2 linked regions of the Homo sapiens genome follow. The protein of the gene in region 1 purifies or fractionates together with the protein of each later gene. This does not show direct contact. Each region holds a gene or a part of one and is shown in the gene's direction. Other genes may lie near its edges. The genes, in order: L3MBTL4 and AHCY.

Region 1 (3,818 bases):
AAAGATCTTTATATTTCTGATAGCATTGAACATAACAGTCACATTTATTTACTTTACTGATTGATTATAGCTATTAAAGTTGTACCACATGTCTAGAGGATGTATTTCTCAGACCATTTTATTATTCTCTTTATTGAGTGTGCTGGATACATATGTTAGAGTTGAAACAAGGCCATGCTTATTTTAGTTGTGCTTTGTACTTTAGCTTACACTGTCTTGGAATGTGAATCCAGGCCAGAGGGCAGAAGATAGGGTTGCTGAAGGGAATATTTGACAGGTATTGAATTAATAAATAAACCAGTTAATTAATGAATACATAAACTGACCCTCAGATTCCTAGATTGGGTAAAAGGGTCACTATTTTGCAGAATGCACTAGATACCTGTAAGACAGGGTCTAATTTCATTAGAGCTTAATCAGAGGTCATCCATAAATTTCTTCTTTAATGGAAACATTTGGATAGAAGGGTTGGCTCTTATATGTTGATAGTACTGACAAAATATATGAATATTTTGTGAATTTTGTGTCTACTCCAAATATATGACACTTAACGAATGATTGTAAACTTTCTATCTTGCAGGTTTGTGGTTACCGTCTAAGACTTCATTTTGATGGTTATTTAAGTTGCTATGATTTTTGGACCAATGCTGGTTCCCCTGACATTCATCCAGTAGGATGGTGTGAAAAGACCAAACATGAACTGCACATCCCTAAGGGTAAGCCAGGATACATTTACCAACTGGAAAGAGAATCAATTGGTATTTCACTTATATTTTAACAATACTTTATGAAATTCGAAGAAGAGATCCTGGTGTGGATTGATTTCCAAAATGAAATTGTGTTCCATAAAGAGTAGTAAGACTATAATGGTACCATTTTTAGAAGTAAATGTCTTTAAAGAAAAGCATAAATGACTATTTAGGTCAAATATTCTGATAATGTACAGAAGGCAGAAATAAAATATTATGAAAGCATTTTATTTTATTTTATATAAAGTTTATTAAACCTTATAAGCAGTGCAGACTAATATTTAAATCATGGTTGAAACAAAATATCTAATCAATGATACAGCAAGGTGAGGAAACTTGATTCACTGTAAGTAATTTGTTTCAGACTTAGGAATCACGGAAAACAAAGAACTATGAAAAAAATCACTATTTTCTTTCGATGGGAATGAAAAATATCATGGTTTTGTTATGTGCTAGAGGAGTCTGGGCCAGGCAGATGTGACCAAAACCTTTTCGATTTGCTGTGTGCAAGTGAGGTGGGGATGTGGTCAAGGATGATGCTGACGGGCTCATATCTTTGCACAGCAAACTTCTGTACATTGTCTCTGGCTTGGATGTCAGACTGTTCGATGTCTGTGGCAACTTCTGGAGTCAGTATACAGTCCTTTATTCCTAGTTATCCACTCAGGGTGTCCCTTGGGATCCTCCCCTGAGGCTGATGGCAGAGTCCTTGAGGTTGCTGGTTTGGAGGAAGCTGGTGACAGGCTACAGGCTCATTCATTCAGTAGGTATTTATGGAGCCCTTACCACGTGAGGCACTGAGGGCCAGTAGCAAGTAAAGCAATGTCTCTATCTCCACGGGGCTTCATTTCAGAGGAGAAGGATAATGGCGGTGGCTGCAGGGACACTCTTTCAGAAAGCATGGGGGAGAAAGGCCTCTCTGTGGACATAATGTTCCAAAGAGACGTGGGTGAAATGACAGAGGAAGCAGTGTGGTGTCTGGGTAAGCCCTCCAAGGGAAGAACAGGAGCAGGCGCCGGGGCAGGAGTGCGCTTTGCGAGGATGAGTCATCTCAGGGAGACAGCAGAGAAGCGCCCAGGTGGGAAGGTCGGGGACGAAGAGGGTGGTGTTCCCAGGCCTGGAAGGCTGTGCAGGGAGTTTGACTTCTGTTCCAAGGCTGGTGCTCAGAACCATATTTTGAGCCTGTACTGTTTGGCCAGCACTGTGTGAGAGCCACGCCAGGGCATGCGAATGGGAGGATGCAGCAGTTTTTAATGGGAGACTAGTAAAGATGCGGCGCAGAAAGCTGGAGCTGTGGAGTGGGCATTGGATTGAGAAGGCGTTTCTGTGCCTGGCATCCTGGATGGCTGCACCCTCAGGACCTCTGATGGTCTCTGTAAAGTCTCTTCCTCAGGAGTGGGGACAGGTACGGGAACTCTGGTCTCATCCCTTTGCCCATTCAGGAAAGCCTTAATGGGCGATGAGACTCCCATCAGGCCACCAGAGTACTGACTCCGTATCAGAGCATGTGAAATTGTATCGGGAATGATGCGCGTGATGGGGAAGCACTATCAACAGTTTTGCACATAATACATTTTAAAAAGGTGAAACAATTTGGAGATTTTAATTTAAATCTTTTGTGGGTGCTAAGGACGTTGAATTTATGGCAGGACACTAATAATAACCATATGAGGTTGGTGCAAAAGTAATTGCGTTTTTTTTCCATTAAAAGTAATGGCCAAAACCGCACTTACTTTTGCACCAACCTAATATATTTAATATGCATGTGATTACATCTTTTGGGTATTTTGAGTAATCTGTGCTTTTTTTAGGTTATAGAAAAGATAAATTTGTTTGGATGGATTACTTGAAGGCCTGCAAATTGCAAAATGCTCCAAAGAAATTATTCAGAAACAGAAGTCCTGTAAGTATTTTCTTTCCCAGCATAAATCAAATTTCCCCCAAGCTTAAATTTCTTAAAATTCACTATATATTCTGTTTTATTTTAATCCTTTAAGAAGTTATGGAAACTGTTAACTTCCTGTCACTTTTCTCACCTAATTCGTCAGTTTCTTGTGGGCATATCTTGGTTTTCTTCCTTTAAAAGTATAATTAAATACTTCAATTAGATGAGAAAAAGTTGGGAAAACTTAAAAACTTTATGTTTAAAGCCTACTAAAATTGAAAGTGTCTTTTAAAAATGTTTTCCCTTACAGGGAGTTAATCCTTTAATCTTGCTTTTGGTGTTTTGAAACCAGCAGATACTCTAAGTAGGCTTTGAATGTACCCAGCCTAGATATATTTAAGTGTAATGAAAATGAGAGTAACATTTTGTACTAATTGAAGGGGTGTTCTGCGGATCTGGGTAGATCACACTTCTTATGCCATCCGTGTCCCCAGAAATCTAGTGAACCTTCAGTGGAGGAGAATAAATTGCAACTCCAGAAGTCGGCTCTGCCACTGGCAGGCGGTGTCACTGTGCAGGCCACTCACTGAATTTCTCCAGACATCACTTCTGTGATCTTGAAAGCAGTGTTATACAATCGTTAAATATGTTTCCTAGATTTGTATCAAGAAAAGGAGCTATTAAAACGTGAAGTTGCTGTAAAAATAGAATGTGCTGAAGGAGAATAAAAATCAGGGTTTGATGAAAGAGAAGTAGAGAAAAACACCCTCTTTCAGTTCCCGGATACTGTATGTACTCCCTAAATCCCAGGATTGGCTAATTATAGATATATGAAGGGTGGGTTTGTAATTGTTATGTTATTGTAAATCATAGTTCATAGTATTTTTATACTAAGAAAAGCACAGATAGTAAAAAAGCACTCACATTTTAAAATTATAAATTTAAATTATATGTTAAATATATATAAATTATATATAAATACACATTTTAAATTATAATTTTATTTAAGCATGTATTTCTTAAATATTGAAAAAGCCACTTATTTTCAGATTGAGTAATCAAATTAACAGGATACTTTGGTGCTAATTAGAGCATATCTTCACCACTTTTTCAAATAGTGGCATTTGGAAACTTCAAAAGCCTATGGGAAGCAGAGAAGGTTATTTGATACTATTGTGTTCAGT
Region 2 (3,818 bases), on another chromosome or scaffold:
ACTGTAGGAAGCTGACTGACAGACAATTTTATTGATTATTAAATTCTTAGATTATTAAATTCTCTACAGAGTCCTTTGCCTCCCACCGCCTACCTCTTTGGGTGTTTGGCAGGATCTCAGCTTCCCTAAAGATAAAAATCACCAGGAGTCTTAGACCTGCTGAATCATATTTTCCAGGGGAGATTTACAAGCATGCCAGAGGAACATCCCTTACCGGGGAAGTCTGCAAACTTTGACCTAGGGACTGACCTAGGGTATGACCTTGGAAGTGGACCAGTGTGGTAGGGGAGAGTATTGAGATAGTGAGTTAGCTCATAATAATATCCTTCTTTCCTGCCTGAGAATTTGAACAAATTCGAGACATTTTAGGTGGCAGATAGCACCTGAAATACTTTTTGTTACTAGTAACCATGAAGCCAGAGGATGTAGATTAGTATTTTAGGTGGCAACACCTGAAATATTACCTTTTATTACTAATAACCTCAAAGCCAGAGGATATAGATTAATATGAAATCCAAATGATCCTGCTTATTGAACCCCCAGATTCAGCAGTTACCCAATCAGTTGCAGGCAAGGTGGGCCAGGGTAGGTTGGTCTCTGGAAAAGCAGAGAACACCAGCTTCCTGCAAGTGGGCAGGTGAGTGCTTGCTTGCAAAAAGAAGGGAGAGCTAAGCTGAGCACACCATTTTTTCCTCTCAGTTTTACTGGTCAGACAAGCTCACCCCACCTCCCCTGGGGCAGAGAGGCCAAGAGCATTCGTTATACGGATGAGTTCCTCCAGGTGGAAAGAAACATCAGGAGTGGGGAAGCATTTTTACATCTAAAAGGAGATCAAGGAACTGTCAAATCCAAAATGTTAGATAGTATTTATAAGTGTTGAATCACCGAGAGTGATGACTGAGAGAGGAAGATGGAGAACCAGCAGCTAACATCTTTAGGGAGTCTTTAGGGAGTGAGGAGTGGCCTGGAGGTTGGTAGGTGTCAGCAGAAAGGCAGGGTAGTGGGAAGTATCATGTGAGCTATTTTTCAAAGGGACGCTTCTTTATGTTGTAATTTTTGTGTCCCTGTGTGATTAAATGTGTTCTCCCACAAGTCAGAAAGGTGCAGGTAGGCAGGGACCGTGTCTTTCTTGAGTACTCTGGCTTCATAAATACTTGTTGCATGAGTGAGAGAATGCGGTGACAGAGTGCTAAGCCCTAGTGTGTTGAGTCCACACGTGGATCGGGGTCCATGCAGTGACCGCCCCTCTTGGTTGGTGGGATGAGGGGACTCACGGAACTCCCACCTGTTTCCTCCCGTAGCCGACATCGGCCTGGCTGCCTGGGGACGCAAGGCCCTGGACATTGCTGAGAACGAGATGCCGGGCCTGATGCGTATGCGGGAGCGGTACTCGGCCTCCAAGCCACTGAAGGGCGCCCGCATCGCTGGCTGCCTGCACATGACCGTGGAGACGGCCGTCCTCATTGAGACCCTCGTCACCCTGGGTGCTGAGGTGAGGCCCACAGCTGTATCACCCCAGAGTCCTTGCCCTCCCTGGGTTCAGCCAGGGAAGAAGACGACTGTGCCAGGGTGGGGACCTTCCAGGTGTGGAGCTGACCGCGGGCCTGGAGGGGTTCCTCCCTCTCACTCGGTTTCCTCCGTTTCCCAGTGCTGCCACCCCTTGTGGTGAGTGTTCTGCAGATTTTCTCCCTGGCTGGGAAGGTCACTGTTGGCTACCCTCAAGGCATCCTCCTGATGGATGCTCTGGCAGGAAAAATTCAACACCCATGTCCTACTTAGTCTCTTAAGGGCCAGCTTGCCTTGGCCCTTCGGGGGTCACAGGCCTACCCTGGACCCATCATGGCTGCTGGATGATGGCAGCTCTGATTGGTTCAGCCTGGGTCATGTGTGCCAATGATTAACAGCTCTCCTAAGGTCTCAGAGAGTCAAGAAGCAAGCTGGTTTCCCAAAGCAGGGTAGGGCAATGGAGCCAAAATCCACAGAGGGGCTCAGGGCTGAGTCCTTGGACCTCTTCTTTCTTTTCAGCATTCACTCTTGGCGGTCTGATTTTATAGCTTTAGACACTATCTGGTGATGACTGTCACATTTTTGTACTAGCCTGGACTTCTCCTGGAACTCAAGACTGGCATATCCAGGAGCGGGGGCGTTGACGCTCCCTGGAGGTCTAGTACTCATCTCAGGCAGAACGCGTTCAAACAGACTCAGGATTTTCTGCCCCCTCTTCTTCCCAAAGCCTTCCCCACCTGAGTAAATGGAACCTCTGTTCCAGCCTTCTGGGTTCTCTCAATTCACGAATCTGGGAGTCATCTCCTCCCCTCCCTTTCCTCCCCACTCCCAACTCCCTTTACTCCAACAACTCATCCCTCTGCAAATCCTGTCAGTGCAGCCTTCAGAGTAGACCCAGGATGTGACAACTTCTCATCATCTCCACTGCTACTGTCATATTTCTTGTCTGGAGTCTTCTCCAACAGTCTCTGCAGTTGTCCCCTTGCTTCCACCCTTTCCCTTCCACACAGCACTGGAGTGAGGTTTTAAAACCTGAGTTGGATCTCGCCCCTGCTCTGGCTCCCATCTGCCCACCCAGCATCCCCAGCCTGTGATCCTAGAGCTTGCTGTGCCTAGATCCCAAGCCTCTCCCCACTACCCGAAGCTCTCCCTTTTCCTCGCCCAGCGTCCCTGGTGCTTTTGAGCCATCAGTGACCAACAGCCTTGTTTTGATGGCTCTTCTAGGTGCAGTGGTCCAGCTGCAACATCTTCTCCACCCAGGACCATGCGGCGGCTGCCATTGCCAAGGCTGGCATTCCGGGTAAGTCCTGCTTGCTTCTGAGACGTGGAATTTGTGAAGGGATTCTGCCCTCTTTGCTTCACTGACTGCTAGAGCAACAGACTTCCTTACATATCAGAAAGGGAGAGGAGTCACCGCCACAAAATCCTAGCCCAGCGACCCCACAGGAAAGAGCTGCTTTGTCCCATCATCATCTAAAATCCTGTGGAAGTTGTTTATTGACCCAGGTCAAGCCGTGTAACCAGGAAGAGCAAGATCTTATGATTGGGAACTACATGATGAAGCGGAGGGGAAGTTCATTAAAGGAAGGATGTGGATCTCTTTCCAAAGAACTGGGGAGGGCTACGGGGCAGAAAAAGAGGTTCACTGCCTAGGGTATGGCGGTCTAAAGGACTGAGGAAGGACCAAGTCTAACGAGAATGGAGTTTTCACAGGCTGGGCACATGTCTGCTTGGACTTGGGGAGGGGAGTGGTTAGATCTGACCCAGTGATTAGGACATTCAAGATTGCTTCTAACCAACCACAGGTGGACAGGAGGGGGTGGCACAGCACTCCTTCACAGACTGACCAGGGCTGAATGGGCATGATCCCCATTCCTCAGCCTTGGCACCGTGGCTTTCTTCTTTTTTTTTTTTCTTTTTGAGACAGAGTCTTGCCCCGTTGCCCATACTGGAGTGCAGTGGTGCGATCTTGGCTCACTGCAATTCTTAAGACTATTGTCTGCTCCAGTTGTGGGTAGAAGCAGCTGGCTCTGCTTGGCCAGCGTCCTTTGCTCACAAGAGGCTCCTGGGAACCCCACACCTGTGCCCTAGTCATGCCACATGGGAGGAGTGTGGGCTGGTGGTCAGTAGCCCTCAGTTCTGGTGTCTATTCTGGAATTTCATTTAGAGTGGCCCAAGTGCGTCTTAGCTCCTCTCTGGGCATCTGTAAGTGATGATAATGGTCATGGCTGCCTCACAGGGTTTCTATGAGGAAGAATGAGATGGGGTATGGAGGATTTAGAGTCATGTCTGGCAGAAAGCAAGTACCCCAC

What was found.
Region 2: the proteins of L3MBTL4 (region 1) and AHCY purify together in Homo sapiens (affinity purification with mass spectrometry; one large-scale study listed by BioGRID and IntAct). This does not show direct contact.

Annotation. Positions count from the first base shown.
Region 1 is NC_000018.10:6,240,192-6,244,009, reverse strand, and holds part of L3MBTL4 (lethal(3)malignant brain tumor-like protein 4), read left to right. Parts: intron 1-580; coding exon 581-716; intron 717-2,560; coding exon 2,561-2,652; intron 2,653-3,818. UniProt on the Homo sapiens protein: Putative Polycomb group (PcG) protein. PcG proteins maintain the transcriptionally repressive state of genes, probably via a modification of chromatin, rendering it heritably changed in its expressibility.
Region 2 is NC_000020.11:34,293,069-34,296,886, reverse strand, and holds part of AHCY (adenosylhomocysteinase), read left to right. Parts: intron 1-1,301; coding exon 1,302-1,492; intron 1,493-2,730; coding exon 2,731-2,806; intron 2,807-3,818. UniProt on the Homo sapiens protein: Catalyzes the hydrolysis of S-adenosyl-L-homocysteine to form adenosine and homocysteine. Binds copper ions.